Linked DNA regions of Homo sapiens. The protein of the gene in region 5 interacts with the protein of the main gene of each other region in a biochemical or structural test. Each region holds a gene or a part of one and is shown on either strand. Other genes may lie near its edges. The genes, in order: INTU, RHPN2, LMO7, PDZD9, RASSF6, SIPA1L3 and SIPA1.

Region 1 (4,235 bases), about 54 Mb from region 5:
ACATAATTAAAGATACTATCAAAATACCAGTGAGCTATATTAATAGAAATATAGACATACCAAAGTTATTTTTCTCATCATTCCTAAATATATTATTAGGAAATTGATGAAATAATTCATATTCATCCATTCATTTAAGAAATATTTACTGAGCACTTAATGTGTGCCAGGCACTCTTCTAAGCACTAGAGACAAAGAATTGAACAAAGACAAAATCTCTACTCTCAGGGAGCTTAATATTCTTTGGGGAAGATGGATAATAAACATGTATACAGGCTAAGTATCCCAAATCCAAAAATTGAAAATCCAAAATCCTCCAAAATCCAAAACTTTTTGAGCACCAACGTGACCCTCAAAGGAAATGCTCATTGGAGCATTTTGGATTTAGGATTGTCAGATTTGGGATGCTCAACAGGTAAGTATAATGCAATATTAAAAAAAAAAAAATTGGAAGCACTTCTGGTCCCAGGTATTTTGAAGAAGGAGTACTCAACCTGTATATGTAGAATCGTGTTGGTAGATAATTCTTCATGAGTCTCATGTTTCTGTACATCTTACAAGCCGAGGCATTGAGAGTCTTTGTTCTAGACTGTCTTTTCAAAGACGTTCGTGTAATGAACAGCCTTGGACAACAGAGATATGTTTCCATCCTGAGCAAAGGTCAAGCTTGTTTACTGAATGGTATAATAAGGTCAATGCTGTGCTCAATATCTTATTATTAATAACTGTTCTTTATAAAAGATTGGTGTTCCCTAAGTTCAGAGTTCCTTTCCTTTAAGGCAACCCATTATTAGGCATCACTTGGCCATCTGTAGGGTTGGCAAACAGATGAAAATGTTGCCACTGTAGGTACTGCTATTCCTCCTTTTTTTCCTTCCTCTCCTTGATACTCTATTGAATGAGAATGGGGTTAAGTGCAGAGTAAGCAGGAGTACTTTCTTAGGCCAACTGTGAAGGCTTGAACTAGGTTTAGATGCTCAAGAGATACAACTCAGATGGGAGTTTTGCAAGCATGGGCACCAAGTCATTATGATGGTTAACTATTACAGCACTTTGGACAAACTTTTCTTAAAAGTAAGAACTTGCAGACCAAAATAAACTTTCAACTTGAAGTCCACTTGGAAAAAAAAAAACACAACAAGATGCCTGTTTAATTTCTCCTATATAAGAGATTAAACAAAAGTACTATATCAAATTACTTATAGCTGTAGTGATTAAAAGAAAATAAAGGAATGATGGACACAGTATAGCTGTGTCAATGTAAAATGAAACCACTTTTGGACTATCCTAATGATTAGTTCTGTTGTCTATAGTTTGTTATCCTCAGGGCACAGAAATAGTAAAAACATTTTAAATTTGTTACTTTAAACTAAAACTCCATTGGATGATGTGCCAAATGACTTTTTTCTCCAAATCCTAATGAATACATTCCTGTAGCTGAGTGTTATAGGGAGTATTATCTAAAATTATCAAGTCTAACAAACCTCTAAAAAGAGGAGATGGTTCATCATAAAAATATATGAAAATAAATTCTGAAAGCAAGTGTAGTATACCCAATATTTTTAAATGTTTAGTAGAAAATTTTCCCATTCTATGAAATAAATATTATATCCACTTCTCATTCTCCCAGACATTTGTTTTCCTCTAGTGTTTCTGAACACTTCTGTGAAGTGACTCAGAGATGGCTGGCTTCCCGGACATCGCACCTTTGCAGTGGACATCCTAAACCCAAGGAAAGGTCTTTCTCCATAAGTACACGGGAGTCATTAATATGATCTGTCCCATTTCAAAGGCTAAAAGGGAATGAATTATATGATTGATTTGCATTGTTAAATAAGAAATGGCCTGGGTAGAAATATGAGAAAATTTTTATTAAGAGATATATTTAAGAACCAAATAAAATATTTTAAAAAGAGATCAGTTTATCACAGTTCCTCAATGTAAAGTTAAATTATGTGAGAAAAGCCATCAATTTCTCAGTATATACTTAACATCAAACAACATGTGTACTAAAGGGCTACTACATAAGGCACCAAGGGCTATGAAAATATATATGCAAAAGTTTGTTTACTGCTGTGTTTATACTATATATAAAATGAATATACAACTTAAATTATTTTTGACAAAAGATTATTGTATATAAATGTAGGAAAAGGGAGGATATATAACAAAATGTTGTCTTTGGGTATATGGAATTTTTCTTTTTTGCTTAATTGTATTTTCTAAATTGTCTACAATGAACGTATATTATTACTATCACAAAAAGAAAAAAAACTCATATTTTACCAAAAAACCCCCCACTGAGGTAGGCAGCATAATTGCCCCCCAAAGATGTCTATGTTTCAATCCCTGAAATCTCTGAATATGCTACCTTACACAGCAAGAAGGACTTTGCAGTTGTAATTAACTTAAAAGATTGGAAGACTGTCCTGGATTATCCGAATGATCGTCAGGTAAAGATAAAGGTCTTTATAGGAGGAAGGCAAAAGTGTCAGGGTCAGCATGAGAGAGACTGGAAGATGCTATGCTGCTGGCTTTGATGATGGAGGACAGGACCACAAGCCAAAGAATGCAGGTAGCCTCTGAAAGCTGGCCAAGGAATGGGATTCTTCCCTGGAGCCTCCAAAAGGAATGTAGCCCTGTGGACACCTTGATTTTCATACAAGAAGACCCATTTTAGATTTCTGGCTTACATTATTGCAAGATGATAAATCTGTATTGTTTTAAACCACTAAGTTTGTGGTAATTTGTCACGGCAGCAATAGAAGATGAATGCACTAGCCTAGTAATACAAAGCAATCTTTGTGATGCACCAAAAAAGGAATCACGAATGCTAAAAAGCAAAGATGGACACACAAGGTGTATCTGGAGGTCAGTTAGGAAAAAAATAAATCAGGCTTGCTTGTTAGAGGTGGGGATTTATGGATAGAAGGAGTGGCACATATGTATGGGACAGAAAAATGAGATCAAATTGTGAATTGAAATTGATCCTTTTAATTAAGCCAAATTTGACTTCAGGGAAAGGGAATCTGGTTTTTGAAAAGCAGTTACTATACTGCCATTTTATACATTCAAAACTCAATGTTTTCTGCCAATGCATTTACTAACAATAAATTTTGTTATTTTTTTTTGAGTTTCAATCTCAACCCCTCGTCTATAATATGTGGGCACCAAACTAGAGAGAATTAAGGCCCCTCCCAACCTACCATTCTGAAGTCCTTGAATAATGGTACCAACTTGCTTTTGTGAAAACTGTTAAATGAAGAAAAATCAGACATTTATCCTGCCTTTCCTGTCTAAACCATATGTCAAGGTTACCAGAGGTGAGGGGGAGCTTCTTTTTATGAAAGTAGTCTAACTGAAATATTGAGAAAGACTGACAGAATTGGAATATCACCATTTTGCAGTCCCTTAATGAATTAATGGATTTAGGCAATGATCATCAATAACTGTTAATATCACAAAAAGAAAAACAGCAGATAATATGTTGTTCCTGATGGAAGCACACAGACCACCTATAAAATATGTTTGATAGGCCTCAAGATCTAACTACCAACTCACAGGAAACACCACTGAAAGGGGGGCACGTTAAATGAATTCTGGCTCCTTTTACAGAACTAAAAGAACAAACCATAGAGATATTTAGTTCTATCCTATCATTTCACAAGAAGGAAAGTAGAGGACCCAAGAGAATGTAAGTATGTATTAGCCCCTGTTCCAGTCATCTATTGTTGCATAATAAGTCATCCAAACAATTTTTTTTTTTTTTTTTGAGACAGAGTCTCACTGTGTTCCCCCAGGCTGGAGTGCGGTGGTACAATCTTGGCTCATTGCAACCTCTGCCTCCCAGGTTCAAGTGATTCTCGTGCCCCAGCCTCCCCAGCAGCTGAGATTACAGGCATGCACCACAAGGCCCAGCTAAGTTTTGTATTTTTTAGTAGACACGGGGTCTTGCCATGTTGGCCAGGCTGGTCTCAAACTCCTGGCCTCAAGTGATCTGCCCACCTTGGCCTCCCAAAGTGCTGGGATTACAAGTGTTAGCCACCACGCCAGGCCTATCCAAATAATTCTGAGGCTTAAAACAACAACAGTTGGCCAGGCACGGTGGCTCACGCCTGTAATCCCAGCACTTTGTGAGGCTGAGGCGGGTGGATCACCTGAGGTCAGGAGTTCAAGACCAGCCTGACCAACATGGTGAAACTCCATCTCTACTAAAAAATACAAAAAAATTAGTC
Region 2 (4,235 bases), on a different chromosome or scaffold from region 5:
AGGACCAGCCTGGACAACATAGTGAAACACCATCTCTACTAAAAATACAAAAATTAGCTGGGCATGGTGGCGGGTGCCTATAATCCCAGCTACTTGGGAGGCTGAGGCAGGAGTATTGCTTGAACCCCGGAGGCGGAGGATGCAGTGAGCCGAGAGTGCACCACTGCACTCCAGCCTGGGCAACAGAGCGAGACTCCATTTCAGAAACAAAAAAAGCCAAGAGGCTGATTCCTTTTCAAGCATGGCCGGAGCCATCCCAACAAAGCACCAATTCCCAGCACTGCTCAGCACTCCAGGAAACGAGACCTGCTGGGAACTGCTGCCAAAGAAACTGTATCGAGTCAGGGTCTGGAATGCCCCAGAACCTGAGGAGGGGTCAGGCACTGAGCTGTCGCTCCATAAATCCTTTTCGGATGAATGGAGCATAATGTCATTTTAAAGAAAAGGGGAGGGAAGGCATGACACAGAGAACAGGATGAAAGAGAAGCCTGACTTCAGTGGAAATTCATTTGATCCTTAAGTGTGCATAAAATCCCAATAGTCACCAGGCGCAGTGGCTCATGCCTGTAATCCCAGCACTTTGGGAGGCCGAGGCAGGTGGATTACGCAGTCAAGAGGTTGAGACCATCCTGGACAACATGGTGAAACCCCAACTCTACTAAAAATACAAAAATTAGCTGGGCGTGGTGGCACGCGCCTGTAGTCCCAGCTACTCAGGAAGCTGAGACAGGAGAATCACTTGAACCCGGGAGGCGGAGGTTGCAGTGAGCCAAGATCCCGCCATTCCATTCCAGCCTGGCGACAGAGCGAGACTCCGTCTCAATAACAACAAAGAAATCCCAATAGTCAAAATACAGGTCCAGGTGCAGGGACTCACACCTATAATCCCAGCACTTTGGGAGGCCAAGGTGGGTGGATCACTTGAGGTCAGGAGTTCAAGACCAGCCTGACCAACATGGTGAAACCCTGTCTCTACTAAAAAATACAATTAGCCGGGCATGGTGGCGCACATCTGTAGTCTCAGCCACTCAGGTGGCTGAGGCATGAGAATCGCTTGAACCCAGGAGGTGAAGGTTGCGGGGAGCTGAGATTGTGCCACTGCACTCCAGCCTGGGGGACAGAGCAAGACTCTGTCTCAAAAAAAAATAATAATAATACAAGATGGGAAGCCTCATGGGTTCTCACTCACTGCCCCCGGCTGGCTCAGCCACCCAATCAATGCAGCAGCTGTTGGCAATCTTCACCCCCCGCCTCGACTCCTGGGCCCCATCCCCAGCTCACCTTCTCCCTGAATCTCCAGCCATTCCCCACCCAACTTCTTCACTTTTGTTTTTTTCTTTTATCATTTTTTTTTTTTTTGAGACGGAGTCTCGCTCTGCTGCTCAGGCTAGAGTGCAGTGGCGCGATCTCGGCTCACTGCAACCTCCACCTCACAGGTTCAGGCAATTCTCCTGCCTCAGCCTCCCGAGTAGCTGGGATCACAGGTGCCCGCCACCACGCCTTGCTCATTTTTTGTATTTTTAGTAGAGACAGGGTTTCACCGTGTTGGCCAGGCTGCTCTCAAACTTCTGACCTCAGGTGATCCGCCTGCCTCGGCCTCCCAAAGTGCTGGGACTACAGTGTGAGCCACTGTGCCCTGCCACACCTTTGTCTTTAACCAGCTCTGGACTTCCACATTCTAAAACAAAGCTGCCTTCTCTCTTCTCAGCTCCCCTCTTTCTCCAGCAATATCTTCCCTGCCCTTCTCCCCCTGTACCCTGTCACACTGACTTTTGTCCCCAATTCTCCAACCATGCATTTCCTAACGACTCCTAAAGAACTAAATCTAGGACCTTCCAGCATTCTTCTGACTTGTCACGCCTTGCTCGACTAACAAGACTGACCTCTCAGCTTCCTAGACCTGGCCACCCTTCTGGCTTTCCTCCCACCTCTCTACCCACCTCTTAAGCGGAGGATCCTTTCTAGCCCAGATCCTTTCACTCAATACCCCAACTGCCTCCCAGTTGGTGCCACCCAAAACTGCATCTCCAGCCAGGGCGCCTGCATGGCTGCTGGGCCCATGGAGTGGGCTCTCTGCTGGGACCGCCACATGGATATCCCATGAGGGCCATCAAGTCTACACACTAGCCTCCGCGTTCACCCGCATTCATGGATCTTGAGGAGGCGCATGACCAGACACCTCAGGCAGGCATTGTGACGTTTTTTTTGAGACAGGGTCTCATTCTGCTGTCCAGGTTGGAATGCAGTGGCGTGATCTCGGCTCACTGCAGCCTCCATCTCCCAGGCTCAGCGATCCTGCTGCCTCAGCCTCCTGAGTAGGTGGGACCATAGCTGGGTGCCACCACACCTGGCTAATAGGCAGGCATTTTGGATTCTCATTGGCAGCTCCTTCCCTGCCAATCACATCAGTTCTTTCCCTCTCTGCCAGATATTGCCCTTTCTCCAGCTCTATCATTCCAACCTCCTCATCACTAGAATCCCTGCCTTCTGTGTGGACCCCTGGTCTGAGCTAAGGGTGCAAGCTGGTGGAAAGAATGGGTGATTGAGGCTGTGTTTACACGGCCGTTTCTTTGTTTGTTTGTTTGTTTTTTGTGAGACAAGGTCTCACTCTGTCATCCAGGCTGGAGTGCAGTGACATGATAACAGCTCACTGCAGCCTCAACCTCGTGGGCTCCGGATATCCTCCCACCTAGGCCTCCTGAGTATATGGGATTACAGGAACACAACACTATGCCAGGCTGATTTTTAAACTTCTTATAGAGATGGGGTCTTGCTTATTGCCCAGAGTGGGCTTGAATTCCTGGCCTCAAGCAATCCTCCCACCTTGGCCTCCCAAAATGCTGAGATTACAGGTGTGAGGCACTGCACCCCACTCACAGCACTGTCACTGACTGCATCATCAGTAGTCCGTAAAAGAGAAGGAAGGGCAAAGATGATAGGTATTACAAGGGGCTAAATCCTCCCAATGCCTCCCTGCCTGGCTCCACCATAGCTTCTTTCCCATTCGCCACCCATTCACCATTCACGTGTCAAAGCGGTCTTTTTCTTACACAAATCTCACAGGTCTGGTCCTGCTTTAAATACTTTGATGGATTCCACAGTTCCCAGGTCAAGCAAGATGCATGACCCTGAACTGCCTGGCTCCCACAAACACCTCCACACCCTGGGGGGGCCTACAAAGCACTCACAAGTCCACAGCTCTGTCCAAGCTGTTCCCTCTTCCTGAAGGGCTCTTTCTCTCCTTTCACCTGGACAGCACCTGCCTTTCTTTTTTTTTTTTTTTTTTTTTGAGACGGAGTCTCGCTCTGTCACCCAGGCAGTGGCGCAATCTCGGCTCACTGCAAGCTCCGCCATTCTCCTGCCTCAGCCTCCCGAGTAGCTGGGACTACAGGCACCCGCCACCACGCCCGGCTAATTTTTTGTATTTTTAGTAGAGACGGGGTTTCACTGTGTTAGCCAGGAAGGTCTCGATCTCCTGACCTCGTGATCCACTAGACTCAGCCTCCCAAAGTGCTGGGATTTTTTTTTTTTTTTGGGTTGCAGGGGTACGGAGTCTCACTCTGTTGCCCAGGCTGGAGTGCAGTGGCACAATCTCAGCTCACTGCAACCTCCGCCTCCTGGGTTCAAGCGAGTCTCCTGCCTCAGTCTCCCAAGTAGCTGGGATTACAGGCGCCTGCCGCTACACCCGGCTAATTTTTATATTTTTAGTAGAGACAGGGTTTCACCATGTAGGCCAGGCTGGTCTCGAACTCCTGATCTCAAGTGATCCACCTGCCTCAGCATCTCAAAATACTGGGATTACGGGTGTGAGCCACCACGCCTGGTCAGCACCTGCCTTTCATTCGGCCATTTGGTTTTGTTTTGTTTTCATTTTTATTTTTAAAATTTTTTATAGAGCCAAGGTCTTGCTATGTTGCCCAGGCTGGTCTGGAACTCCTGGCTTCAAGAGATCCGCCTGCCTCGGCCTCCCAAACTACTGGGATTACAGGTATGAGCCACCACACCCGACCCTCATTTGCTTTAGGTCAAACTGGCTCAGGTCATAGATCAGGAAAGATTCAGCATCAACACCTTTTATTTTCCTAGGATAAATAGACTCTTCGAACTGGTATGACTTAACATGGAGTAGCACAACAATTGTTACAAGGTCTCATTTTCAAAATTGATGATTTTAATTGTAAAACAATGATTCCTCTTATTTTGCACCCCTGATTCTCTCATCCAACACCAGAGAA
Region 3 (4,200 bases), on a different chromosome or scaffold from region 5:
CAGGAGACGGAGGTTGCAGTGAGCCGACACGGTGCTACTGCACTCCAGCCTCGGCAACAGTGAGACTCCATCTCAAAACAAAACAAAACAAAACAAAACAAAACAAAACAAAAACAAACAGAAAGTAAATACAATTTAAAAAATTAAAAAATAAAACCCTCCAGCAGAAAAGGTGATACATAAGGCAAAAGGCAAACAGTTGTTAAATACAGACGCTAGGTTTTAGATAGTATTCTACTAGTCTCTGCTCTGTATCTGACGTTTTTCTTCATAAAAACAACCAGAAAAATAAGAACAAGAGTTTGCTTTCGTTTCAGCAGAGTAAGAACCGGTCTTTGTCTTCCGCCAAAGATGAAGCCATCAACCTGTGGCCTGGATAGTGCCTCAGGAGCGTGGAGTGAGGGACCAGGGAGCTCAGACAGATGAGTAGGCTCCTTTGTGGAGACCTGATTTGAGCACTGGTGTGAAAAAGACCCGCGCAAGCCGACCCGTGTGCCTCCCGCCCCGCCCCCAACCCCCCGGCCCTGCACACCTACCCAGGGCCGCGGCGGATACCGCATAACCTGCCACCTCGCTGTCCCCTGAGTGTCCTCAAACCACGAAGGGTGGGAATTTTGACGCTCACCGCGAGGGCGATCATCAAACGGCCTAAACTGGGCTGAGCGGGCGGGAAGTGGGGAATGCAAGGAACCCTCCAGCTTGCTCGAACCCTCAGCCGCGAGCCGGGGTGGAGGGGCAGGGACCCTCCTTCCACCGCACCCACCTGGAAGCCGGGCGGAGCGGGGCCGAACTCCGCCGGGGGGAAGCGGCAGCACGTGCCAAGGCCACGACCCTCCTCTGCCGCCGGGAGGGCCCGGCCGCCGCAGGGGGCGGGGAGCGTGGGAGGGGACGGCGCTCACCTGGCGGCTGGGCCGGATCGCGGCGGGAGAGCGGGTAGCGGGCTCAGCTGGCCGGGGCTCAGGTGAGGGCGGCGGGCCGCGCTCCCCAGCGGGGGAGGTTTCTTGGCCGGGAAAGGTACAATTGTGTGCAGCTATTTCTGGTATGTCAAGCGGGCCGGGCGGCCGCGAGCCGGGAGGGGCGCCGCTCTCAGGGGCCCGGGAGAGGGCAGGGGCCAGGCGGGCGGGTGCGGGAAGGATGCGGGCGCGGGGGCGCATCCTCTCGGGGCGGAGCCGCGGGCTGTGCGGGAACCCCAGCGGGGCCCGGGCCGCGGCCCCTGGCGGACTGTGGCATCTCCCGGGCCAGACAGTCTGACCACAGAGGCGGCCGCGGCCGGGAGCCCGGGGAGCCAAGGGAGGGGCAGACGGAAGCGGCGACTCGGCGGGCCCCGGGAGGGCGGTGGGGTGGGCCGGGGCGGGGCCACCGCGGGGAGGACGGCGGCGGCGCTGCGACTTTTGAAGTCCAAACTGTCGTCGGGGCTGGTGCCGCGCGCTGCCGCTGGGCACCCGCTTCGCTTCCCGCGTCCTGCCTGACTGCCCGGGTCCCCGCGGGCCTTGGGTCGCTTTCAGGAGTTTAGAGAAAGCCAGGTCTTCACGTTCGTGTAGGTTCGAGACCTTAACGAACTGCAGAGCGCAACAAAGGGAACTAGAGCCCCGGCGCCTTCGCAGCCGGAGCGGAAGCCGGAGTTGTGGGAGGCCCGCGTGCCCTCCCCGCCCGTGGGGCCCAGACGCGCGGGGACAACCCCTCCCCTCCACGCATCCCGAGTCTCTCTCTCCCTCCCTTGTCCTAGCCATGGAAGGGCTGGAGGAGGCAGAGGCCAACTGCTCCGTGGCGTTCGCTGAGGCTCAGAGATGGGTGGAGGTGAGTGCCTTTCACTGCTTTCCCTTCCGCAGGTGTTGACTGCCTCGGGGCGGTCGTCGCGAGGTGACTGCAGCCCCAGTCACTCTGCACTTTAGCCTCCTTCGGCGACCCAGCCGACGTGAACAAGCTGGTTTGCTTGTGCACTTTTGGGGACTCTGCGGGTTCTGCCGCTCCTGCATCTTATGTCCCGCTTAGATTGGCGCTGCCCTAACCCCCGCCCCCCGACGGTGTCACTGGCTTCCTAGGGCAGAGGTGGGCGTTCGCCTGCCGGCATCGCGCGTCCCGGAGGAGCAGCGCAGTCCGCCCTGGCTCGCCCGGGGCGTCTCTGCGGGGCACAGCCCAGAGCGCGCGGTGCAGAGCTGGGCCAGGGCTCTCGGGTGCATTCCCTCGGGGTGCCTAGAAGTGGGGATGCTCACCTTATACCTGAGAAGCCAGTGTATTCAGTGTGGAGGGGGGGAGCGGAAAAGAAGGGTGGGTGGGAGGGCAGGTGGAGGAGGTAACACACCGAAGGCCCACCTGGAAGGATGATTTCTCTGGGGCCGCATCCAAGCCCAGGGGGTAGGGGCCGGGGCATGTGCTTTTTCATTTTCGGCTTTGATGAGACTGAGATCCTAGGATCATTCGCTGAAGAGCTGTTACCCTCCCAGCTGTGCCTCACAGACAAGATCTTCCATTCCCTTCTTTCACCCTGAAAAAGAGCGGGTCTCTTCATTAACGCCTTGGGGCTACATTTATCTGTAGAAGGTTAACATCAGGACTTCTAGCCGTTATTCCACTGGACGCAAAAGATGACTTTTAAAACGAGGCAAAAGTCTTCCAAGCAGATGTGAATCAGGAACAACTGCTGAAAATTGAGGCGTGCACAAGCCCTGCAGTCATTTAGGAGTTATTGATGCCACGTGCTGGTTTAGTTAACATATTTAAAACTTCGAATTAGGCTTAAAGATTATTCCACGGAAAAAACTACATGTTTAAGAATTCCAAAGCGAACGATACTTGAAAATAATGTATTTTTCCTTAAAGAAATACATGTATGTGTGTGGAAAGAAAGAATAAATTACATTTCTTACGCTAAATAAAGGAATGTGAAATGTGAGTAGCATTAACCACGGGACAGTAGGGAGGTCTAAGGAATGAGCTTTTAGTGTCTTTTTAGATTGAAACTTTGAGCTGGTCTGAAGGTGACTTAGAAAGATGTGAAGGGAGGGGCATGGGAAGTTGAGAGAAGAATAAACGCTGTATTTTGAATTGAAATGAGAGTGGAAAAATTCCAGCAATATAGTTAAGAGAAATAACTTCCCTCATTCATAAACTTTGAAAAGCCAAGACTTCCAACTGTAATTTTCCATTAGCAGTGTGTGTTCTGCATAATTTTAGAAAACAAACTTGCCATTTTGTGTTTGAGTGTTGGGGATTGAAGGAGGGAGAAGGGGAGACGTGGGGACATGTTTTGGTCATACATGGCTTCTGTGTGGAGTTTGCATCTGCGTGCTTTGTATTTGCTTCAGGAAACATGAATAGGAATGATTCCACACCCTTCCCTTTTTTTTTAGTATGCACATTTTGGAAAACGATGAATTCCTTTTTTGTCCCTGCTTGCTCATAATTATGTAGGTTTTCTCCAAGAAATTTGTATGTAATGAATGGGGGGAAAGTGTATTGTGATAAAAGATATCATTGCGCATATTACATGTGGTCTGTTTTCACTCTCATCGCAGTCTATGTAAAGGTGTTTATCAGCAATGATTTGGCACCTCTATAATGTATTTTGTTCATCGTTAGCAGAGAGCTGGATCTTCCTAAAGGTACTGTCATATCCTTTTAATATAGTTAATGAAATTAAAATTTTTTTTCATCCCACTTGGAACAAGGCAGTATGTTTGCCTTCATTGTGTATATATGAGTAATTTACATGTTCAGATACTTTTAGTATACTCTGGGCATTTGAAATGACCACAGTGTGCTCACTGTTAGGGCTATTTTGTTTCTCCAGTGTCCACATCTATCTCTCTTGTCAGCTTTGCCTTTGCCACCAAAGCACATATTTTAAAATATTGTTCTTGCCAAAAGAAGCAGGATGAATGACTCTGTCATCATCACAACCTCTTTAAGAACCCCTAATCTGAAGATAAAAGGTTGATTCCAATGTGTATTTGTAAAGTATTCTTTCCCCTGCTTGCTGATAGTCTTGCTACATTTTGCCCTATTCCTTTACACATTACTGAAATATAGGAGGGTTTTTAAGTGTATATATTGTATATGTATGTACATATATACATATGTATTATAATATATGTTCTATCTGTATTACATATATATTCGCAACTGCAGCTTTGAATACCCCAAAGTCAACTCCAATAACCTTGTAAAGTTTTGAATGATGACTGGACTCCATGTCAGCAT
Region 4 (4,235 bases), on a different chromosome or scaffold from region 5:
AAGGCTGCAGTGAGCCATGATCAAGCCACTGCACTCCAGCATGGGTGACAGAGTGATACCCCATCTATCAAACAAACATGCATTATTTCATCAAATCTGCGCAACCTCTGACAAACACAGGAATATCCCAATTCAAAGATGAGGTGACTAAGGCCTGAAAGGTTAAGTGGCTTTGCCCAGGGTCACAGAACTAAAAAGTGTCAGACCCTGAGCCTGAATCAGGACAGCTAACACAATGTTTTTTCTTTCTCACCATGGCGCCAGCCCATTCTGCCTCCCCAACTCCTGGGCACAGTACTAGGCCCAGGCCAGGCACTGAGAAAACACCTCTTGAACTGCATGGAAAATTCATTCACCCAAAGACACGAGGAGCAGGGCAGTATTGGTAAAGCCCTTAGGCTCTGAAGTCTGACAGAGAAGGTTCAAATCCCAGCTCCTCAGAGTGACCATGGGAGAGTTACTAAACATCTGATTCCTTGTCTGCAAGGTGGTTTCATGCAGAATCTAGCTCAGGGATTGTGAGAGTGAAATGAGATCGTGCAGCTAAGTGTTAGCAATGCTTAATACTGCCTACGAAAGAAAATATCTTTACGCACTGAGAGCCATAGCTCTGGAGTAACATGGTCCCTGAATCCCCACTTAGGAGAAACAGGTGACCTGGACAAGGAACTCAATCTCACTGACCCTCATTAAGTAAATTTAATTTTTTTTTTTTTTTTAGAGGTAGGGTCTCACTCTGTTACCCAGGTTGGCATGCAGTGGCACAATCATAGCTCACTACAGCCTCGGCCTCCTGCACTCAAGTGATCCTCCCACCTCAGCCTCCTGAGTAGCTAGGATTACGGGCACGCACCATGCCGGGCTGCTTTCGTTTTGTTGTAGAAATGGTGATATGGTTTGGATTTGTGTCCCCGCCCACATCTCATGTTCAACTGTAGTCCCCGGTGTTGGAGGAGGGGCCTGGGGGGAGGTGACTGGATCACAAGGGCAGATTTCCCCCTTCCTGTTCTCGTGATAGCGAGTGAGTTCTTATGAGATCTGGTTGTTTAAACGTGTGTAGCACCTCCCCCTACTCTCTCTTCCTCCCGCTCCAACCATGTAAGACATACCTCCTTCCTCTTCACCTTCTGCCATGATTGTAAGTTTCCTGAGGCCTCCCCAGCCATGCTTCCTGTACAGCCTGCAGAACCATGAGCCAATTAAACCTCTTTTCTTATAAATGACCCAGTTTCAGGTATTTCTTTATAGCAGTGCAAGAACGGACTAATATAGACAGCATCTCACTGTGTTGCTCAGGCTGGCCTTGAATTCCTGGCATCAACGGATCCTCCCACCTTGGCTTCCCAAAGTGCTGGAATTACAGGTGTAAGCCACTGTACCCAGCCAGAATTAAATGAATTAATATGCCCAACAGTGATAGTTATATAAGTGATAGCCATTGGCTGGCCCATAGAAAGTTCTCAACTAATGTCATATCCTTTTTTTTTGAGACAGAGTCTCACTCTGTCACCCAGGCTGGAGTACAGTGCTGCCATCTCAGCTCACTGCAACCTCCGCCTCCCGGGTTCAAGAGATTCTCCTGCCTGAGCCTCCTGAGTAGCTGGGACTACAGGCGCCCGCCACTAGGCCCAGCTAATTTTTGTATTTGTATTTATTTTATTTATTTATTTATTTAATTATTTTTTGAGACGGAGTCTCTGTCACTCAGGCTGGAGTGCAGTGGCGCGATCTCAGCTCACTGCAACCTCCACTTCCTGGGTACAAGCGATTCTCCTGCCTCAGCCTCTCAAGTAGCTGGCATTACAGGCATGTGCCACCACGCCTGGCTAATTTTTGTATTTTTAATAGAGACAGGGTTTCACCATGTTGGCCAGGCTGGTCTCGAACTCCCTACCTCAGGATCCACCCACCTCAGCCTCCCAAAGTGCTGGGATTACAGGCATGAGCCACTGCTCCCAGCCAGTTTTTGTATTTTTAGTAGAGACAAAGTTTTACCATGTTGGCCAGGCTGGTCTCAAACTCCTGACCTTAAGTGATCCACCCCGCCTTGGCCTCCCAAAGTGCTGGGATTACAGGCATGAGCCAGCATGCCCGTCATATCCTTATAGTTACACTGAAACCCGGTGACCCGAGTCACCCTGCAGGCAGATGGGCAGGATGGGTGGTTGGGAAGCATGGCGAAAGGGCAATCACCTGGCTGGAGTTTCCCGTCGTTGGCTGCAGCCCCCTTCCTGATGAGGTGGGTGATCTGGAGGTAGGGTCCATGCTGGATGATGATGAGGCCTAATCCCAGGCTACCCACAGTGAGTTTGGTCTGCTGTGTTTTGCTCAAGTTGTGTACAGATGTTTTGACCTTGTTGCTGACTCCTCTTTCTAACCAAAAGAGGGGAACTTATTTCAGTCCTTCACCAAGACAGAAGCATGGCCATACCTACTGGGGTTCTGAAGCCAGATCCCTGGGACAGTTATTTAATCCCTGTTCCTCAGATTCCTTGTCAGTAAAATGAGGATAAAAATGTTCACCTTGGAGAGCTCTTCTGAAAATTAAATGGGTGCATTAAAGGGCTTTTGCAGAGTCTGGCATATTGTGAGTGCTTAATCAATATTAGTTAGTATTATCTGTTCACTTAACAAATATTTATTGATACAGTGTGCTAGGCCCTGGGTTTACCATGGTGAGCAAAACAGATGTGTTGGGTTTTTTGGTTTTAACAGACAATGTCTCACTCTGTTGCCCAGGCTGGAGTGCAGCAGCATTATCAGGGCTCACTGCAGCCTCGATCTCCTGGGCTCAAGGGCTCCTCCCACCTCAGCCTCCTAAGTAGCTGGGACTACTGGCATGTGCTACTATACACGGCTAATTTTTATTGTTTTTGTAGAGACAGGGTCTCACTATATTGGCCAGGCTAGTCTTGAACTCCTGGACTCAAGCAATCCTCCCACCTCAGCCTCCCAAAGTGCTGGCATTACAGGTGTGAGCCACCGTGCCTGGCCCACATGTGTTTCTTGTCCTCATGAATTTTACAGCCTAGTGGAGGGGACAGATATCAATCAGTCATGTAAATATATGTTGGATAACAAACTGTAACTCATGCTATGAAAGAAAAGGACGGAGGGCTCTGAGAATGAGTAACAGAGGGCCAAAGTCTCATCTGGGGATGGCGGGTCAAGCTTCCAGCAGGGCTAAAATTTGAATTAAGGCCAAAAGGACCAATAGGAAATATTTAGGCAAAGAAAGGTGGATCCGGAGCAAATTGTGTTAAGGTCTGAGAAAGGAAGGAACAGTCCCTGTCAGAGGAGGGGGAGGCAGGAGGAGCGAGGACCAACCAGACAGAGGCTGCTTCTCAGACTTCCTTAGTGAAAAGGCTCCGAAGTGAGTAAAGCTGGACATGGTTAGATGAAATGAAATGACATGAAAATGACAGGGTCCTGGCACATGTCATGGCAGTGACAGCGGAAATGAGCAGTGGATGGATCCAAAAAGCACATGGGGGAAAATCCGAAGGCCTTGGAGACAAGGGGTAGTGGGAGAGGTTGAAATATGTTTTCTACAGAACCAAATCTCACAAGAAAAATTTCAGGGACTAAAAGGACATTCAAAACAACAAGTTAATTTCCCAAGAGGAAGTTGCTAGGAAACTCCTTTTCGGTACACAGGAAGCTCCTGGGGAGATCTGTTTTCAGCACACTTTTCCAGCATTTCACACACAACTCCTTTCCATAAGGACAGGTGACACACAAGCTTGCCAAGTCCATGTGACTGTGGTGTTTTCAGGGCCACTGCTGAGGGAGAGGCTCCCCCAGCTCCCTACCTCTGGCTGTGGGGAGCTGGAGGGGTTCATGGCCCTTTCCTCTAAAGCAAATGTCCTTGCCCATCTCCAACCTCACCTTCCCCCAAACCACAGATGCTCTCTGTTTGGGAAAATAAAATAGCATAATATAAACAAGATACCATCTTCAGAGACCTTTCAGGGTTCTGGGAGCAACTGGGGGCAGGATACGCCCTGCCTGAGCCTCTGGTTCCTGAGCAAACAGAGAAGTCACATCTTGGGCAAGGTCCAGTGGTTCCTATCTCAGTTTGTAAATTCAATATGCTTATAAGGTAAGCTACCAGGAGCCCACTTTTAAAAGTCAGCAGGGTTAAGTAAAAGAAGCCAGACTCAAAAGGCTCCTTACAGAAGAAGGACATGTCTCAGGAGTTTGATCCAGACCTCTATAAGCAAATGCAGAAGTTC
Region 5 (4,235 bases):
ATTCAAGTATAGGCCATTTGAAAACAAAACCTCTGAGAAAGGAATTCTGAATATTTTCCTTTCACATTACAGTTAGAGAGTTATTCTGTTGCAAAAATTAATTTGTATGTTTAAAATGATAAATTATAGTGATTTCATCACTTTCATAACATAATCTCAACAACCAAACTTAACTAATACCACTGCTTTCAGGAGTAGAACATGAAGTGTCTCCTATTTAAGTAATAAGGATGTTAACTTAAAGGAAAACTTCATCATCACCTAGAGCCTAGTAAAGGAGCTTAAGAGGAGAGAGTGTCGATTCTTTTGCAGCAAATATACAAACAGGAAAAATGAGTCGTGATCTTTGTGACGTCAGCCTAAGAATTTCTACTGGGAAGCTCAGGTGAAGCAGAAAATTTTTGAGTTCCACCACACCAGTAATTCCAGAAGATGCTGTCGGCAGACTGAGCAGCGCCTCCCAGACCCAGTGGTGGCAAGATGCCTTAAGTGCCTTAATACAAATTTGCTTCTCTGACCGTTTCTGCTTTCTTTATCTCCCTGAGGGCACCTTGAGCAGAATAAAATGCATGGCATTAGTACCATGTAAATATGCAATAGAACAGTAAAGTTTTGGCATTTCCAATTAGATTCCACTTGAACTGAGGGCAGTGGCATGCTCACATAGAAGTGTGTTTGATTCATATTCTGCTTAGTCCTCTCTTAGATTCAATGATTATAATACATTATTTCTATCTCAAAACCAACAATCACTGACTGCAACCAATATTACTTAATTAAGTGATAGTTTGTATATATGCCAACTCTTGACCTTTACTGTCTCTGCAAATAAAGCACATTTTAAGAAAAAGTATGGAGCCAAATGTTTCCCAGAAACCATCACTCTGTTAACTCTTTTCCTTTTTTGAGAGAACTAGATACTGGATGGAATTATAGATGCTTTGTCTCATTTTCTTGAAGTGATGTAATTGCATATAACTCTGCTCTTCTCTACTCCAAGGTTCCAGGTCATAACTTTGAGAAAACAGTTTCGTTTTGGAGATGAATACATAATTGTAACTTTCTATTGCTTCTTCAAGCTGAAACAATATTTTATTAAAAAGACTCTCCGTGTGTACAGCCCTTAACATACTCTTATCTCATAATTGAAATACACACTTGCTATTCTAGTGTGATACTTTCTGTTCTTTTTTTAAGTAGCTTTTACTGGGGACGTGGGTGAGAGAGATGTAACATATATTCCTTGTCTATGATTTAGACAGTACATACAAAATAAAAAAAGAAATAATTATCACACATAATCTCTTAGCTCTTAATTTTACCATTAATATTATAATATACCTCTCTGTATGTTGGATGTATTCAATATTTTGTGTATGTTTTATCTATATGCCTGCATATATTCACTCACTTTAGAAGACACAAAAATGAAATAGCAATAATTCTGTCCTAAAGGACCTAGTAATCAAATTAAGTAAAATAAAATATGGTTAGAGAGAGAAAGCAGTAAGTAATTAGAAAGCTACAGAAAATTTCCTGTGAAATTTCAGAAGCAAGAGAAATTGTCTTTGGCTGGGAAATACAGGGAAGTTAGCACCTGTATATATATGTATAGATAGATAGATAGATAGATAGATAGATAGATAGATAGATAGATATAGATATATGTATATATATTAGTTCTTTGTAAAATCATTAGCATTATGACACTTTGTGCACCTTGTGGCCTCAGAAATAAGAGGCTATAGATATAGATACAGGCTATACTTTCTGTGCCTAGCACGGTAGCAGGTGCAGAGAAGGAACTCGTGAAATATTTGTTGAATTTACAAACGAGTGAACCCAATTTTCCACTTTTAGATATGTAACCATTTAATTAACTCATGGTTGGATAACAGGAAGTTACTTTAAATGACTGACCCATTTGATTTAATTTGTACTAGAATTCACTTCCTGTCCTCTGGCCTCATTCTGGTCACAAGGCAACTGGTAAGTCCAGGCAAGCCCACCTCTAGGCAGGAATGCAGAGCAGGGGGAGGTGAACCACGTTCCAGCATTGCTGGAACGCTAATGCTGCCCAACACTGCCTCCTCAGGCTCCATCCAGATCTCATTGGCTTGTTCAGACCAATTCTACCTCTCCTATACTTCTAGTGCTGTTGATTTCTCCAGGACTTAATTGCTGACCTATCTAATTCCCTGTTTCTCCAGCTTCATTGTTTCTGGACAAAATGAAAAAGTAAATAACCAAACTTATTAAATAATGATCTTATTTTACACACAATCTAAGTCAATAATCTCTGGCCCCAGGGCCTACATAGATTTGTAACAACCATCTTCCTCCTCAAGTTGTAGTTTATTATGTTCTACCAAAATTACTGAACATCCCAAGTAAGACCTCCAGGCTTCTAGAACTGTAATTTTTTCTTTCTTCATAAATTCTCTCCCTCGTTGCTATTCATGACTTCTCTGTTATTCTCCTCTTAAGTCCTTGAGAAAATTTGCTCAGATGCTTATATCTACCAAGTCTTTATAATTTAGGAGATTTTCACAAGGGCCCTAGCAGGTTTTAGTTTGCTATGAATCATGGTGAATGGGAATGGGAAGATGAGGATGAAAAACTATTTGAATTCATAGATCTATGCCTCACTTCATTGTTTTTGTTTGTTTATTTGTTTTGCTCTTTTTTTTTTTTTTTTTTTGAGACAGAGTCACACTCTATCACCCAGGCTGGAGTGCAGGGACACAATCTTGGCTCACTGCAACCTCCATCTCCCAGGTTTAAGTGATTCTCGGGCCTCAGCCTCCCAGGTAGCTGGGATTAAAAGTGTGTTCCACCACACCCGGCTAACTTTTGTATTTCACTTCACTGTTAATACTAACAATGGGACTTTTACCAAAGCATGTTCTTACCTTTCAGGTATTTAAACTGTTTGAATATTTTATTTACCCAATTTTTAGATCAGACATGAATAATATTATTTCCTACTCAAATATTATGTGCTGCCTATGAATGAAAATTTTATCCTGTTTTTATTTTCTTACATTAAATTATATTCAACTTTCTTCCTTCCTAAAGTCAGAAAATAATATAAGAGCCTTGGAAACCCTTTCATCACATCTTCTGAAGTCTTCTGAAGCTGGCTATGAGTTACCTCAGCATAGATCAACAGTGTGTCACTATAACTACATTGCAATTATTTGCCCTCTTTAATGATATCTTTGATATTTCTTATGAATGCAAATAAAGAGTGAGCCAGTTGGAAAGCTACTGCAATGATTTTTCAGTCCATCACTGCCAATTTTCACTTTGTAATTATAAGAAGCTGCTATCAGTGGTTCTTCAGTTCCAAATATCCCCAGTGTCTGGTGAGGGAAGCAAGCTGTCTGGTTCTTAGATGGTCTTTTTGCTATGCTCTGACATGGTGGAAGGGTCCAGGCAGCTTCTGGGGTCTCTTTTATAAGGGCACTAACCACATTCATGAAGTCTCCACCATCATGAACTAATCACCTCCTAAAGTCCTCACCTGTTAATACTATTGCATTGGGGGTTAAGTTTCAACATCTAGGTTTTGTGGGGACACAAACATTCAGACCACAACAGAGGGAGGCCCTCTAGTAGGCTGACGCAATAATCCAGGAAAAAGATGATGGTGGCTTGGCTTAGGGTAGTAGCAGTGGAAATCAAAGCTTTCGAATTTGGAATATGTTAGTGGTACAGTGAATAGGACTTACTTTTGGATTGAATTTGGCTTATGATGAAAGAGGGAAAAAATGAGACTAAATATTAGTTTTGATGCCTAGATGGGAAAGAATTGTGGAGGAGGAAATTTTAGAGCATGGGAGAAAGTCAGTGGTTCTTTTTCAGCCATGTAGATATCGAGATGCCTGGTACACATCTAAGTAGAGATTAGGTAGGTGGTGACATGCGTCTGGAGCTCAACAGAGATTATGGGATGGAGACAGATTCGATTACCTGGAAGAATGTATAGATAGAGAAGAAAGGATGGCTGAGAATGGACACTCAAACAAGCCAGTATTTAGTGATCATACAAAGGAGGAATCAGCAAAGGAGACTAGTGTTGAGGCCTGTGAGATAGCAGGAAAATAGAGTGAGGTGATTGTTATTCATGGTTTGTCTCAAAAGCATCAAGAAGAAAGTGTTTTAAAAGGTAGGAAAATCAATCTTGTCAAATGTTGCTAAGAGGCCGAGAAATGAGGAGAGAAGTGAACTCT
Region 6 (4,235 bases), on a different chromosome or scaffold from region 5:
CTGCTGCTGCGGTGCCGAAGGGGGAGGAAGGCCCTGCCGGGGGACCGGGGCCACCCGTCCTGGAACTCCACGTCTTTGGACCTTCTCCTGGAGAGTCGGTGGAAGGCTTTGGACCCTGAGGAAGCCGGGGTGCTGGTGGGGGGCTGTCCGTTCTGTATGCTCCTCATGGAATGGGCCATCTTGGTGGCCTTTGTGCCATCTGTGTCCTGGGAGGGGCTTGGGTTGCTGTGCTCTCTCAGGGCCTCCCGCTTGGGCGGCCAGTCGGCCACCCTTGCGCGCACGCCCATCTTGGGCATTGCGGGAGTGGTGGGGCTGGGGCGGGTGGTGGCGGTGGCGGTGGCGGTGGCGGTGGCCGGGCTCTCGCCAAGAGGCTGGGACATGCTGCCATTCTGGGCCCAGAATCCCAAGGGAGCGTAGTCCCCTGTGTGTGGCCCAGGGAGGACATCGCCCACCCTGGCGCCACAGCTGGCTGCCAGGTCCACACCATCGCTGGGGATGGCCCGATAGGTGGTCATAGTCCACGGGCACTGGAGTGCTGCTGGCCCCGTACGCTGTGGTGTCACTCTATGGGGTCCCCCAGCCCTCAGCCATTGTTCAGGGCAGCCAGGCCCAGGATGAAGGATGCTGGGCCCTGAAACCTGACAGGAAGGTTGTGAGCCTGTGGAGTCCAGTTCTCCACCATCGCTGTGCACAGCTGAGCCAGGACAACCTCAGGAAGCAGGTGCTGTCCTGGGGGCTCCAGACCGAGTGGCTCAGTAGCGCAGAGCAGGCAGTAGCTGTGGTCGCCCGCCAGCTGGAGGCAGCAAGGATGTTGTCCTCGCCATGCTGAAATGGAAGAAAAGGAAAATATGAGCTGCGATGGCCGTGTTACTGCTCCCAGAAAGTGGGACATGTGACTTTTCTTGACAGCCTTACTCATTTAAAAAATCTTTTTATTATGGAAATTTGCAAACATACTCAAAAGCAGAGAGGAGACTGAGTCACCCATCAGCTCCAACAACCACTAACTATTTTCCATTCCCATTTCATCTATTCACCCAGCCTTGTGACCTTCTTTGTTTCTGATAGAATGTTTTAGAGTAAACCCCAGACATCATTTTTTTTTTTTTTTGAGACAGAGTCTCGCTCTGTCACCCAGGCTGGAGTGCAGTGGCATGTGCTTGGCTCATTGCAACATCCACCTCGAAGGTTCGAATGATTCTCCTGCCTCAGCCTCCCAAGTAGCTGGAATTCCAGCATGTGCTACCATGCCCGGCTAATTTTTCTTATTTTTAGTAGAGACGGGGTTTTGTCATATTGGCCAAACTGGTCTCAAACTCCTGGCCTCAGGCAATCCCCGCCCGCCTCAGCCTCCCAAAGTGCTGGGATTACAGGCATGAACCACCATACCTGGCCAGACATCAGGTCATTTCACCCATAAATATTTTAGCTTGTATCTCTAGTACATAAGATTTAAAAAAAAAAATCACAGTAACATTATCATACTCATCTACATTAACAAGAATTCTTTAATGTCATGCACTACCCTGCCTGCATTACATTTCCCATCATTGTCTCGCAGGTGTCTTTTGTGAGCTGGTTTGTTCGAAATCATCCTCTGCTTATGCAGGTATTTTCTCAAGTCTCCTCTACTCTACAATGGCCACCTTCCTTTATTTTGATGCTCTTTACTTGTTGAAGGAAAGGGGTCACCTGTCCTGTGGATTTCCCCACTTTCAGGATCCCTGAGGTGCCACTTAACATGTTCCTCTGCCCCCTGTATTTCCTGTGAACTGGTGGCTTCATGCAGAGGCCAGACTATTGTCCACCTGCTCTGTTGTTTGCTCAGCTCAGCTACTCTGCCAGAAAGGAAGTGAAAATGACAGATGAGTCAACATGAGCACCAGTGGAGTTTGGGGAGGAAAGCTGCAGAAGGAATGTCTCTAGAAATCCATGTGGTTACTGCAGACTATGACTGGGTAAATCAGAGCCCATCACTTTTTCACTGAGATCTCCCCAGTGACTACTTACTGCATTAAAACACCATCCAAACTCCTTCCCCTGCTCCACAAGCCCCGCAGGATCTGGCTTCCATGTCTCTCCCCATCCCTGACTAAGCTCTGATCATACTGGCCTTCTTTTCTGTTCTGATGCACCAAACCTTATCCAGGACATCTGATATCCTTCCTCAGTCCTTCTTGGGGCTGGTTCCTTCCCATGATGTCAGTTCTTCCATGGGGACTTCCGGCTGGGCACGGTGGCTCACACCTGCAGTCCCAGCACTTTGGGAGGCCAAGGCGGGTGGATCACTTGAGCCCAGCAGCTCAAGACCAGCCTGGCCAACATGGCAAAACCCCATCTCTACTAAAAATACAAAAATTAGCCAGGCATGGTGGCATGTGCCTGTAGTCCCAGCTACTCAGGGGGCTGAGGTAAAAGGATCACTCGAACCCGGGAGGTTGAGATTGCATGAGCCACGATCACACCACTGCACTCCAGCCTGGGCAACAAAGCGAGATCCTATCTCAAAAAAAAAAAAAAATCCCCAAAAACAAAAACAAACACAAAAACCTTCCCAAATCACCCTATAGAGACAGAGAAGCCCGGTCTTCTGGAAGCCTTTCTTAATTACCCACTCTACTTTCTTCCAATTTTTCTTAGCAGTTGTTCGTTCTGTCTACTGGCTAGGTCCACCACTCAAATGTTGGCTCCAGAATGGCAGGGATGTCTGTGTTGTTCACTGATGCATTCCCAGTGCCTAGAACAGTTGAGACGGAGTCTCGCTCTGTTGCCCAGGCTGGAGTACAGTGGCGCGATCTCGGCTCACTGCAAGCTCCGCCTCCTGGGTTCACGCCATTCTCCTGCCTCAGCCTCCTGAGTAGCTGGGACTACAGGTGCCTGCCACCATACCTGGCTAATTTTTTTGTATTTTTAGTAGAGACAGGGTTTCACCGTGTTAGCCAGGATGGTCTCGATCTCCTGACCTCATGATCCGCCTGCCTTGGCCTCCCAAAGTGCTGGGATTACAGGCGTGAGCCATCTAGAACGTCCAGGACGTTCGTTTAGTATTATACATATGAGTGAACAGATGGCCTCTGCCTAATTGGAGGTGTAAGTACCTCCTGATTTGCAGGCCCCTGGGGAAGGGAGTCTGTGCTTCTGTCCAGCATATAAAACACCCTGCGGGGTCACTTCCCTTTGTCTCCACCTTGAACTTCTAGAAGATGAAAATCCTGCTGGAGAGGAAGGGGAAAGTGGGTCGCCGTCTGTGATGGAAGCTGTTGACTGCCCAGCAGCCGTGCCCGCTCCCTCCTGCCAACGGAACTGATTTTGCTCAGGGCAGTGGAGTGCTGCTTTGGGCCACGCACTTGGTTCAAGGTGACCTCTAACTTTTCTTTCCCTGGGAATCTAGAGCTGGATGCAGCCGTTCTTGATCAATGGCTATTGGAGCTTCCTGTGTGAGAAAGTAGCAGGCCTCTTCTGCGTGTATGTGTCTGTGTGTGTGTGTCTGTGTGTGTGTGCGTGTCTCTGTGTATGTCTGTGTGCGTGTCTGTGTGTGTGCGTGTCTGTGTGCGTCTGTGTGTGTGTGCATGTCTGTGTGCCTGTGTGTGTGTGTGCATGTCTGTGTGCCTGTGTGTGTGTGTGTGTGTGTGTGTGTGTGTGCATGTATGCGCATGTGTAGGGGGGCTTTTCCTAATTTATGCCCAGTTATGGAGCGCACTGGCAGAGATCACAAGGGAAGCTCAAAGCAGATTCAAGGAGCAAATAGCAAGGGGAGCCTGAAGCCTCTGAAAAAGTGAGCACCAGAAGAGGGCAGGTGGAGAGTGGGGAGCAAGGGGGAGCCCCTCTTCCTGGTGCCCCACGAGAACACAAACGATCCTGAAGATGTTGCCGGGAGGCAGCACAGGGATGGGCTACAGAAGAGAGAGGAAGCTGGAAAGCCCTCAGGGTCGAGTTGCCTAAGGGAGACAGGAGAGAGGCCAAGAGGAGCCTGCACTGACCTGGATGGCAGGGCATCTTCTGACAATCAAGGCTTGCGGGAGTATGGATGTCAGATCATCTGATTTTCCAACAGAAATCAGAAATCTAGAGTTGCATGTAACATTTCCCAATTGGAAAAGCAAAAATATTGGCCAGGCGCAGTGGCTCATGCCTATAACCCCAGCACTTTGGGAGGCCGAGGTAAGTGGATTGCCTGAGGTCAGGAGTTCGAGACCAGCCTGGCTAACATGGTGAAACCCCGTCTCTACTAAAAA
Region 7 (4,047 bases), on a different chromosome or scaffold from region 5:
CCCATCAATCTCCCTTCAAACATCAACCACAAGACCAGATCCGAGTTTTCTGCAGACACACCCTCAGTGACCACAGCCTTCCACACTAGTCCACAACCAGGAAAAAGTGGCAGTCTTGGGAACTGCTAACCCAGGATCCCTAGTGCACCTTCACAACCCTTTCTGATCTGGCTTCTTTGACGCTGGGTTCCTGGGTGTGCCTTGGCTCTAGTCCAGCAGGCCTCAGCCAGACTGGTCCTACCAGGATACCTCTGACGTCTCTGCCTGGTGAACTCCTACCCAGCCTTCAAAACTCAGCCCTCATATTACCTCCTCCATGAAGCCTTCCTGATCCTCAGATGCTCTGTTTCTCCGAGCCTAGCTCATCCTGCCAGCACCTAAGTTAACAGACCCAGGGCCTAGGTCTCACCATGGAGCTTCAGCCAGCCTAGGGAAGGGACTGGAATAGGCATGAGATGCTGGGCAAGTCTGCCCTATCTGGGCCTCAGGTCCAGAAACCAAAGGATTTAGACAAAGTCCCAAGTTTGGACTTGATGATGCCACTTCGGGGAAAGGCCTGGCCTCGCGAGGAACAGAGAGGACCATAGGCTGGTGAGGAGGGAAGTGGGTCAAGGGCCCGTTTCCTCCAGGACATAGAAACAGCCCCAGTCAACTGAGGCGGAGATGCCACCGCCTCTGGAATTGGGCCCTGCAAGAAGTGGCCAGGTGGGTAGAGAGAGGACAAGGCCTGGGGGCTCAGTGGCTTCAGAGAGAAGAGTGAGGCCTGCACTGAGGCACAGGGCCTTGTGATGCACGGCCAGGGTAGCTGTGGGGTGTGGCCACCTGCTTCCCTGCAGAACCAAATAAACGTTATGGGAGAGAAGCCAAGCAGTGGCCTGGCCTCAGGGACCCCTCAGTGAGTGCCAGCCCATCTCTGAGCCAGTGTTCCCAGGGCCTGTCCTGACTGGTCCGAGGAGTTTGGCTGGGGCCTCTGGAGGCAAAACCCCTTGCCCTGCCCTGTCTTGGACACATGTTCAGACACAGACATCAGTGGCTTTTTTACTCCCTGAAGTCCTCTTTTCTCCACAGAATATTTACAAACAGGGAAGGGGTGGAGGCCACTTCCGCCACCAAATAAGGGGCTAGGGAGGGGGGCAGTGCTAAGACACGCCTCTGCGCAGGGAGAGTTCCTGAGGAGGGCCCAGTGTGACCACAGTGCCCTCAGGGGCCCAGGTGGTTCCAGACGGCTCAGGCCAGGTCGGCGGTGGGTGAGCCCAGCTGCTTGGAGGCCAGGAGGAGGCGTGTGGCTGCACTCTCAGACTCCGCCTGCAGCCGCCGGTTGTTGTGTCTCAGGCTCCGCACCTCCTCCTCCAGGGCCGCCCTGTCCGCCTTCTCCTGGGGTGCCGGGGAGACAGGAGTCAGAGCCGCCAGCCCCTTTCCTGGGGCAGCCCTGTGACTCCCCCCAAGCTCAGCCCACCCCTCACCTTCTGCAGGTCCTCCTGCAGCTTCCTGAGCATGGACTCCAAGTGAGAGACCTTCTCTGAGAGGTTCCCAGGCTCTGGCCTGAAGACATGGGGGTCAAGACTCAGCAGGACCAAGGCAGGGGGCAGTGCACCAGCTGACTCCCAGCCCCAGCTAATGAGAGGGGCCCCGCTGGTCTTCTAGGCATATGTGGCAGCAGAGCCCAGGACAGAGCTCCACCCCAGCAGACAGGCACGAAGGGGGGGTCATGTGGGCAGGTAAAGCGGCTGTGGGGAGTTGGGGAGCTTACTCAGCATCAGATTTTGGAGTTCCCTTAGGGTCTCCACTCTCTGGGATGGGCTGTCCTGTGGGGACAAAGGGATCAGGTGGGCAGGTCAGAAAGGGGGCAAGAGCACTGCCCAGGCTTACCGCAGCACCCTGGTGGCCTCACCCTCTCGGGACAGCGACTCCAGAATGGTGTTGCAAGTAGAGGCAATCTCCGAGATGGCCTGCCACTCGTCCTCCAGGGTCCCACTGCCCGCCTCCGACATGACTGTGGGCACAAGGAGCAGGCTGAGCTAGGGAAGCCCAGGAGCACCCCCCAACCCCTCCCCTGCTCTCCTGGGTCCAGACTCACTCCTGCTGATGGAGTTCCGCAGAGACAAGGTACGTGGCAGAAAGGAGGCCCTCAGCTCCGGCGCCGGGTTGCCCTTGTCCTCAGAGCCACTGGGACTGCCTGGCCTGTCCTGTGCCACAGAAGTGGATACAGATTCAGTGATGCCCACTGTCACCACTGTGCTGTTGGGCTCCAGAGCCTGGTTTCTGCTCACCTGGGTCAGGGGTGTCTCACTGTCAGCACTGGGTACTGATGGCTTGGCTGTGGTGGCCAGGAGGAGGTCCGGGGTGGTGTTGGGCAGGACTGGGGCCTCATCCGACAGAGAGCTGGGGAGAGCAGGGGTGGCTCAGAAAGGGAAGCCGCTTTCCCAGAGGCCTGGAGGAGAGGGAAGGCCAAGAGTGTGCACCTGCGTGGTGACAGCGAGTTCTGGCTGTGCAGGAACTCAGTCCTCTCCTCGGCCAGATCCCCAGGCCCTGGAGGACTGCCACCATCTTGCAGGCACAGGTGCAGCAGCTGCTTTGTGGTGGGCAGCAGGGTCACCCCCTGGACCTCATCCTGCACAGGATCTGGGGCCCCCCGCCGGCTAGGCTCCTGCAGCGACAGCGTGTACAGCTCCGAAAAACTCCTGTGGGGTGGGACAGGGTCAGGCAGGACTTCTCCAGTCCCCAGCGTCCTGCATCACTAGCCCCACCCCCAGCCCGCCAGGCTCACTTCCAGGAGCAGGAGAGCTCCCCGGCATCCTGACAACAGTGAAAAATGTCTGCCTGGTTACTGGCCATTTTTCCAGACCATGGTTCAAATTCCAGTGCTGCCCCTGTATATCCCAAGCAAATCACTCTGAACATCAATTTCTCCATCTGTGAAATGGGGATAATAGTACGAACCTCATAGTGTGCTGTGAGGATTTAAATAACACGTGTAAATTGCTTAAATCCCAAAACTACTGTCTGTAGCCAAATCCAGCCTGTGCCTTTTCCTTTTCTTTTCTAAAGCAGATGTGCCAGTTTCTGTACTGCGAGCTAAGCATGGATTTTACTTTTTTTTTTTTTTGAGATGGAGTTTTGCTCTTGTTGCCCAGGCTGGAGTGCAATGGCGCGATCACAGCTCATGGCAACCTCCTCCACCTCCTGGGTTCAAGTGATTTTCCTGCCTCAGCCTCCCAAGTAGCTGGGATTACAGATGCCTGCCATCACACCTGGCTAATTTTTGTATTTTTACTAGAGACGGGTTTCAGCATGTTGGCCAGGCTGGTCTCGAACTCCTGACCTCAGGTGAGCTACCCGCCTCAGCCTCCCAAAGTGCTGGGATTACAAGCATGAGCCACCGCGCCCGGTCCGGATTTTACATTTTTAACTAGTGGAAAAATCAAAAGAATATTTCATGATAAGTTAAAATCATGTAAAATCCAAATTTCAGTGTCTATAAAGTTTTAGCGAGACACAGGCACATTTATTTATTCATTTACCTACGACAGAGTAGCTGCGGCAGAGACCAGATGGTCCAGAAAGCCTAAAATATTTATTATTTGGCCATTTACAGAAAATGTTTGCCTACCCCTGGCTTAGCACAGGAAGTTATCAATAGTGTGTAGTGTGTGTGTTGGGTGGGCGGGTGCCAATACTTAAAAAAAAAGATAGTGGGGGCTGCTATTTGATCTTTTAAGCAGTGGGAGCAACGCGCTTAACTGGTCCCATTCTACATATGAAGATAGAGGTTCAGGGCGCGGTGACTCACGCCTGTAATCCCAGAACTTTGGGAGGGCGAGGCAGGTGGATCACCTGAGGTCAGGAGTTCGAGACCAGCCTGGCCAACTTGGTGAAACCCCATCTCTACTAAAAATAGAAAAAATTAACCGGCCGTGGTGGTGCATGCCTGTAATCCCAGCTACAAGGGAGGCTGAGGCAGGAGAACTGCTTGAACCTGGGAGGCGGATGTTGCAGTAAGCCGAAATCACGCCATTGCACTCCAGCCCGGGCAACAAGAGGGATACT

What was found.
Region 1: the proteins of RASSF6 (region 5) and INTU interact in a test that uses a peptide from one of them, tested with the Homo sapiens proteins (one large-scale study listed by IntAct).
Region 2: the proteins of RASSF6 (region 5) and RHPN2 interact in a test that uses a peptide from one of them, tested with the Homo sapiens proteins (one large-scale study listed by IntAct).
Region 3: the proteins of RASSF6 (region 5) and LMO7 interact in a test that uses a peptide from one of them, tested with the Homo sapiens proteins (one large-scale study listed by IntAct).
Region 4: the proteins of RASSF6 (region 5) and PDZD9 interact in a test that uses a peptide from one of them, tested with the Homo sapiens proteins (one large-scale study listed by IntAct).
Region 6: the proteins of RASSF6 (region 5) and SIPA1L3 interact in a test that uses a peptide from one of them, tested with the Homo sapiens proteins (one large-scale study listed by IntAct).
Region 7: the proteins of RASSF6 (region 5) and SIPA1 interact in a test that uses a peptide from one of them, tested with the Homo sapiens proteins (one large-scale study listed by IntAct).

Annotation. Positions count from the first base shown.
Region 1 is NC_000004.12:127,645,722-127,649,956, reverse strand, and holds part of INTU (protein inturned), read right to left. Parts: intron 1-4,235. UniProt on the Homo sapiens protein: Plays a key role in ciliogenesis and embryonic development.
Region 2 is NC_000019.10:33,057,958-33,062,192, forward strand, and holds part of RHPN2 (rhophilin-2), read right to left. Parts: intron 1-4,235. UniProt on the Homo sapiens protein: Binds specifically to GTP-Rho. May function in a Rho pathway to limit stress fiber formation and/or increase the turnover of F-actin structures in the absence of high levels of RhoA activity.
Region 3 is NC_000013.11:75,634,930-75,639,129, forward strand, and holds the start of LMO7 (LIM domain only protein 7), read left to right. Parts: upstream 1-1,400; 5' UTR 1,401-1,728; coding exon 1,729-1,797; intron 1,798-4,200.
Region 4 is NC_000016.10:21,994,129-21,998,363, forward strand, and holds part of PDZD9 (PDZ domain-containing protein 9), read right to left. Parts: intron 2,374-4,235; coding exon 2,194-2,373; intron 1,181-2,193; exon of another isoform or gene 1,135-1,180; coding exon of another isoform or gene 1,110-1,134; intron 1-1,109.
Region 5 is NC_000004.12:73,613,645-73,617,879, reverse strand, and holds part of RASSF6 (ras association domain-containing protein 6), read left to right. Parts: intron 1-1,943; coding exon of another isoform or gene 1,944-1,989; intron 1,990-4,235.
Region 6 is NC_000019.10:38,077,846-38,082,080, reverse strand, and holds part of SIPA1L3 (signal-induced proliferation-associated 1-like protein 3), read right to left. Parts: intron 826-4,235; 5' UTR 516-825; coding exon 1-515. UniProt on the Homo sapiens protein: Plays a critical role in epithelial cell morphogenesis, polarity, adhesion and cytoskeletal organization in the lens.
Region 7 is NC_000011.10:65,647,896-65,651,942, reverse strand, and holds the end of SIPA1 (signal-induced proliferation-associated protein 1), read right to left. Parts: intron 2,752-4,047; exon of another isoform or gene 2,690-2,751; intron 2,682-2,689; coding exon 2,463-2,681; intron 2,432-2,462; coding exon of another isoform or gene 2,383-2,431; coding exon 2,271-2,382; intron 2,187-2,270; coding exon 2,078-2,186; intron 1,994-2,077; coding exon 1,892-1,993; intron 1,806-1,891; coding exon 1,751-1,805; intron 1,543-1,750; coding exon 1,464-1,542; intron 1,375-1,463; coding exon 1,228-1,374; 3' UTR 1,031-1,227; downstream 1-1,030. UniProt on the Homo sapiens protein: GTPase activator for the nuclear Ras-related regulatory proteins Rap1 and Rap2 in vitro, converting them to the putatively inactive GDP-bound state. Affects cell cycle progression.